Linked DNA regions of Homo sapiens. The protein of the gene in region 1 purifies or fractionates together with the protein of each later gene. This does not show direct contact. Each region holds a gene or a part of one and is shown on either strand. Other genes may lie near its edges.

Region 1 (3,382 bases):
TGGTGGTTCACGCCTGTAATCCCAGCACTTTGGGAGGCCGAGGCGGATGGATCACCTGAGGTTGGGAGTTGGAGACCAGCCTGACCAACATGGAGAAACCCCGTCTCTACTATAAATACAAAAAAATTAGCCGGGCAAGGTGGCGCATGCCTGTAATCCCGGCTACTTGGCAGGCTGAGGCAGGAGAATTGCTTGAACCCGGGAGGCGGAGGTTGCAGTGAGCCGAGATTGCACCATTGCACTCCAGCCTGGGCAACAAGAGCGAAACTCCGTCTAAAAAACAAAAAGTGGGTGGAGGGCAGGGAGGAGCCTGACTTAGACTGGAGCACCAAGGAGGAGTCCCCTGGGGAGCTGGCTCTGGGATAGGGGTTGGGAATATGAGTAGGAGTCAGCTGGGAAAGGAGGGAGGGAACCTGGCTCCAGGAGGAGGACATTTCTGTCCTTTCTCACCTTGCACACCCATACCTGCTCCATTTCTAATTGTCCCCAAACTTGGGGCGAAAAGGTGAGCAGCCAGTTCCAAGGTCAATACAAGTCTCGACTCTGAGTGGTAGGTCCCACTGTTAGTCTAACCTCCTTCCCTCCTGCTGCAATGACACCACCTGGCCCAACCCTGGGGGTAGGAGGGGGAAGTGAAAGGGGAACGTTGGCCTTACCTGGTGCCCCCCCCGCCCCCTCCCAGCCTCCATCGAGGGTGGCCCCCAGCTGTCCATGCTGGGTCTGCTACGTCACATCCTGTCCCAGGAGGGCATGCGGGGCCTCTACCGGGGGATCGCCCCCAACTTCATGAAGGTTATTCCAGCTGTGAGCATCTCCTATGTGGTCTACGAGAACATGAAGCAGGCCTTGGGGGTCACGTCCAGGTGAGGGACCCGGAGCCCGTCCCCCCAATCCCTCACCCCCCACACCTCAGCCACTGGAGACTGATGATCCAACCACAGGATCCCTACTCTTTGGCCACGAGATCCCAGTACCCAGATCCTGGATCCTAGACTCCTATGCCCCAACCATTGGGTCATGGGATCCCAGCATCCAGATCCTGGATCCTAGACTCCTATGCCCCAACCACTGGGTCATGCGATCCCCACCCTTCAGCCACTAGATCCCAGATCCCCCTGTAACCATAACTGTGGATCCCTTACTTCAGCAACTCAAGTCTGCTACCCTAACCACAAGATTCAAGATTATCCACACCCCAGCCCTTAATCCCCATCCCCCAAATCACTGGATCCTGCAGCCCCACATCCTAAGGTGGATCCCACGCTTCCCTGTGCCCCCTACTGGATCCTGGACCTCTACGTCTTAACCACTGGATCCCACACAAATCAGTGAATGGATCCCAACACCCCAACCACAGGAGCACGGATTCCCTGTACCTCAACACCCAGACCCTGCCTCCCTCAGGCACCAGATCCAGTGTCCTAGTGAAACGCTGGATCCTAGATCCCCAACCCCAGATCCCCATGCCTCGAGCCCTGGATCTCCAAGCTCAGCTGCTGGATTCTGGATGTCAACAAACCTCACCACTGGATCCTGACAACCACAATGCCTGGATCCTGGGGCCCCCATCACTGGATCCCAGATCCCCTCACTCCACCCACTGGATTCCTGCATTGGTTTTTGGTTTTTTGTTTTTTTTTAACCTCGACACTGGGTCTCAGATCCTTCTGCTGACTGCCAGATCCCTGCATTTCAAGCACTACGCCTTCCACCCCCAGGCACTGGATCCCAGATTCCCAAGCCTTCACCCACCAGATTCTGGCTCCTAAAACAAGTGCGGGGGCCCCAGTGGCACAGCAAGTGGATCCTGGCAACTGCAGCTGCTGGATTCCAGATTCTGGGTCCCCAATCCCTCTGCCCAGTCCCTCAATGTTGAAACCTCATCTCTTGAAGGCAGATCCTGATATTCCAAGGCACTGAATCCCAAGCCCTGAATCCCCGGTTTCTGATCTGAATCTTCCAGGCGCCGGGTCCCAAATGTTCAGGCCCCAAGTCTAGATCCTGGCAGCCCAGTCACAGAGTATCCCACACACACTGGTGCCCAGAGCCGGCTTCTCATGACATGAAATTGCATGGTCGAGGGAGTCTGTGGGGAAGGAAGCCCAGGTCCTGGCTGCAACCTGCACGGATGCTGGATTCCCCCTCACCCCACCTCTGCATGGCCACCCCCTCCCAGCCCTGTGGGGAAACTGTTCCCTGGAACCACTCCACTCCCTGCATCCCCACACTTCACAGCATCTTCCATCCCCCTCCCACCTTCTAGGCGAATAGTCCCCAGAGCTGTGTTCCTCCAAGGGGTCCGAGGAATCACTCACTCCTGGAGGCTGGCAAGGAGACAGTCTGAGGCCAGGGACACATGAAGGGATGTCCCCACCCCAGCACTATCAGGGCCTCCCCAGGCTTCCAGAGTTGAAAGCCAGGAGAAAATCGGCAAAGACCACCCTTCCCTAAACCCAAGCACCCAATGATGCAAAAAACAAAAACAAAAAAAAACCACCAAATCCCCAAATTCATTCCAGATCTATTTTTCTACCAGAGAGAGGAGCAAAGTCCTCCTCCCCTGCGCCCTTACATTCTGCACTTCATAGTTGGATTCTGAGCTTAGGATCATCTGGAGACCCCATGGAGGGACTTGGAAAGGGGAACTGGGATTTGGGGAGGGGCTGGAGGACTTCCGCACGCTTCCACCTCCTTCGACCTCCACTGCGCCCCACCTCCCTGCCTGTGTGTGTTATTTCAAAGGAAAAGAACAAAAGGAATAAATTTTCTAAGCTCTTTTATTGTGGTTTTTACTGAAAAGGGGGTGGGTGGCTATGGGACCACCTTAGTCTACCCCTAGGGAAGGGACAAGGGGCTGCTTCCCAACACCCACAGTTCCAAGAGCCAGGAAATGATTCCCTCTTTGAGCCTCAGTTTACACATCTATAAAATGGGAGCAGGGGAGGGAGTCCCTGTTTATAACCCCTTCTAAATTTTCTGGGCTTTATTATTTTTATTTATTTATTTATTTTTGAGATGGAGTCTCACTCTGTTGCCCAGGCTGGAGGGCAGTGGCACGGTCTCAGCTCACTGCAACCTCTGCCTCCCGGGTTCAAGCGATTCTCCTACCTCAGCCTCCTGAGTAGCTGGGATTACAGGCACCCACCACCACGCCCGGCTAATTTTTTGTATTTTTAGGAGAGACAGGGTTTTACCATGTTGGCCAGGCTGGTCTCGAACTCCTGACCTCAAGTGATCCACCTGCCTCAGCCTCCCAAAATGCTGGGATTACAGGCGTGAGCCACCACGCCCGGCCTCTGTATTTTTTTTCAAATTACAAATTTCAATTTTTTTTCAAATTATCCTTTTCCTAGGGCTGCCAGACCAAATTATCACAAACAGA
Region 2 (3,653 bases), on another chromosome or scaffold:
CAGCCACAGACTACACTAAGTCACCAACTCCAAAGGGGAAATTTGGCTTTTTGGTGAGTACTTGTGCTAGAGAACAGTAGAATGCATAATCTGGTCAGCTTCTCTTGGGACACACTGCCAGTGATAACAGGTTTGAAATATGCAGCAGTTCAATCATCCTGCTCACCCTCACCACAGGTGGCAAACAGGTAGGAAAAGGCCATTGCAACGCCCTGCAGCTTTTCTGGCCGATGATTTGCAAGGCTGTTTGCTATATATATATATATTTATATATGTGGCGGGATAAAAGCCACCATAAGTGAAGAGTACGTCTGTAGATATAAAAATTGCTTGCTTTTAAATCCATATAAAATTAACTATACTTGTCAATCACCATATGTATATGCTAGCTTACACACATATATATAGACATGAGCTTAAAAGTTAACCTAAATTTTTATGGCTTTCACCGGAGATAGAAAGCTGTAGTAAGACAACCAGCAGATTCCACATTAACTGGTTATCATAAAATCAGTGACAAAAAGCCTCATGTTCCATTTCTATGTACCCTCTTGCTAGAGACATGCTTTGGGAAAAAACACATAGGGTTGTGTCTCCCTTTAGTACATATGAAGACAGGGAGCTCTAGAAGATGTGGGCTGCAAGGCAGAAGAGTTTTAACACATGCACTCGCCATCTCTCCAGCTTCCTTTGCCAAGCAACTGGTTACCTTTTTTTTTTTTTTTTTTGAGACAGAGTTTTGCTCTTGTTGCCCAGGCTGGAGTGCAATGGCGTGATCTCTGCTCACCACAACCTCCGCCTCCCAGGTTTAAGTGATTCTCCTGCCTCAGCCTCCCGAGTAGCTGGAATTACAGGCATGGGCCACCACACCCGGCTAATTTTTGTATTTTTAGTAGAGATGGAGTTTCACCATGTTGGCCAGGCCTGTCTCAAACTCCTGCCCTCAGGTGATCCACCCGCCTTGGCCTCCCAAAGTGCTGGGATTACAGGTGTGAGCCACCGAGCCTAGCTGCAACTGGTTATCTTTATGTGTTAATAGCTGAAGCCCAAACTGTGGGATGAAGGCTATTGGCTGTCTGGAGCCCTGAACAGGTATGAGTGGAAATAATTCTTAACAGCATCAATGAGCAAAATCTATAACCTATGTAAAGCTGCTGTCTGGTTACCAAGCACATCTTTCCGCTCAAGAACCAACTTCAGGGAAATGGCACAAATTACACAGGAAAATCTTCTCTCTCTGGTGAAGAAACAGAGACCGCCCTTGTAGTTAAGTGCTGACCGCAGAACTGCCCACTACTGGTTATGGTAAAGGAGCTGTCCGGTAAAGGTGCCCATTACTGGTTATTACTGTTGGCAACCAGAATTCACAGGGATTTGATGGTATTCTTAGAAGTTAACCCATAATTTCTGCATTTCTGGAGCTCTTAATTGAATAAAAGCTGACGATGAAGGTTCACTATTGTAATGCTCCTTAATATACCCTTTGCATTCTAGAGCTGCTAAATTTAAGTCATCCAAAATATTAACAGTGTCAATAGCTTTTTTTTTTTTTTTTTGGGTGAGACAGAGTCTCACTCTGCCGCCCACACTGGAGTGCAGTGGCGTGATCTAGGCTCACTGCAACCCCCATCTCCCAGGTTCAAGCAATTCTCCTGCCTCAGTCTCCCAAGTAGCTGGGATTACAGGCGTGTGCCACCATGCCCAGCTAATTTTTTGTATTTTTAGTAGAGATGAGGTTTCACCGTGTTGGACAAACAGCTTTATTTTTATAAAAATGATGGGCAAGAAGATTTTAAAAATCAAAAGCAATTATACTTTGGCCTTTATGTAGTCCCAGCTACTCAGAAGGATGATTAAGCCCCAGAGTTTGAGTCCAGCCTGGGCAACACTGCAAGACCCCATCTCAAAAATAAAATGATGGAAGGGACAAGGATATTTGGCAAGTGGGTTAAGCTCATTCAGAGTATTCCTAACAGGAATTCATGTACAACTATAGATCTATTCCTAAAAATAAATATACATATACATACACAAAAAGCTATCCTAATGAAATCTTTTCCCGACTGATATTATATATTCCACTTGGAACTGTTTCCCAAATATCCACACTGAATTGTGTGCCAAGGTTCGTTCTGCTTACATGGAAGGCCCTTTAGGAGGGAGTCTATTGTCATCAGTAAGTTCCCCCACCCTTCCCACCCCGTGGTTCCAAAGATTTATAAGCTTAGAATACATTCCCAAACCACCACCCATAAAGCAAATACAGGGTCCCATTGCATTGCTACTAGATTTTGCATCAATCATAGCACCAACTATTTAATTACAATCACAGCTTTAAGTCAGCTGACAGAAATCCTATGAGCAGTTTCCTAGTGCATCGTACATCTTTGGTGTAGGGCAGGTGAAAGGGTCTACAATGTGCAGCTGTCTAAAAGAACATCTTAAAGACAACCTGGCTGACCTGTTGTTCTTCACGCCCTCTGAAAAGCAGTAAACTACAATTCCTTCTGTCAACCATTTCCTAACTACATAAAGGATCATGATGAATCTACGTGACACGCCATCCCATCACTAAAGTCTTATAACATACATACAAACATCATAGCAAAAGGAAAGAAAGAAGTTGGATGGGGTAGAAAAAAATGTCTCTAAGTGCCCCTAAATTAAAATTTCAAAAACTCCTGAGATATGAGCCTCCATTTTGATTGTGCTCAATGACTTAAAATTTGATGAAACAAACAAGCTTACAAAGAGTCAGACTTCAGACAAAATCATTTAACACTAAGTTGAGAAATCACTCTTTCGAAGCTTCTGTTTCAAACATGTTACAAACTATAATCTAGAATCAGAAATTATGAATCTCAAAATTCTTTTCAATAAAACCAAGACTTCAGATTCCTGCTAGGTACCCAAAAGAGCAGTTTGCCAGGAAAGAATTATCTAAAACCTATCCAGTAGGATTATTGCACAGTGGGGCCCACAGGACAATGATTTCCAAGGGCTAGTCCTTATATAAAAAAAGGCCACAATAAATACATCTATATATTATGCCCCACTCTAACTTGACATGGTAAACACAAATAAGATGAATTTTGCTTAAAAAAGAAACTCCTGAGGAAAGAAAAGGATGGAAAACTCTACCAAGGCCACTTAAGTCAGAAACTGTAATTACTATTTCCACTGCCACAAAGGACACTCTCCAAATAGACTGACCGTTCCAAGCACCAAGATTAACCAGTGACAAGGTTATCACACTTAGTATTTCACTCAGATCACAGCTCACACTGAGCGTTTGAAGAACTTCCTGGCAGAAGAGTCTAGAAAGGAAATAAGCTGCTGGCAATGAATCCATTCCTGAACTTAATTCCACCATTAGTCATTAAGGGTTGAGGTGTTATCAGTGAGATGCTAGCAAACCCAAACTCTAGCAAATTCCAGTGTTTAGGCCATTATTTTTCCCTCACAGTTCTTGACATCTGCAAATGGAATTATGGTTGTTCTGTTCTTTTAAGAATCTGGGTAGCACCACGTTTCACTTGCATTGTAACTCCCCCACAATATCCCATCCAATGTAATAAGGATTCATGGCAATCCATGCAGCAGCCTGTGATGCACAAAGTAGCCCAAGATTTAAACCCTCCTGCTCGCCCTAT

Evidence for each region. Proteins that work in one complex are often made in the same cells at the same time.
Region 2: the proteins of SLC25A23 (region 1) and DDI2 purify together in Homo sapiens (affinity purification with mass spectrometry; one large-scale study listed by BioGRID and IntAct). This does not show direct contact.

The regions. Positions count from the first base shown.
Region 1 is NC_000019.10:6,439,460-6,442,841, reverse strand, and holds the end of SLC25A23 (mitochondrial adenyl nucleotide antiporter SLC25A23), read left to right. Parts: intron 1-682; coding exon 683-867; 3' UTR 868-2,778; downstream 2,779-3,382. UniProt on the Homo sapiens protein: Electroneutral antiporter that mediates the transport of adenine nucleotides through the inner mitochondrial membrane. Originally identified as an ATP-magnesium/inorganic phosphate antiporter, it also acts as a broad specificity adenyl nucleotide antiporter.
Region 2 is NC_000001.11:15,662,338-15,665,990, reverse strand, and holds part of DDI2 (protein DDI1 homolog 2), read right to left. Parts: 3' UTR 1-3,653. UniProt on the Homo sapiens protein: Aspartic protease that mediates the cleavage of NFE2L1/NRF1 at 'Leu-104', thereby promoting release of NFE2L1/NRF1 from the endoplasmic reticulum membrane.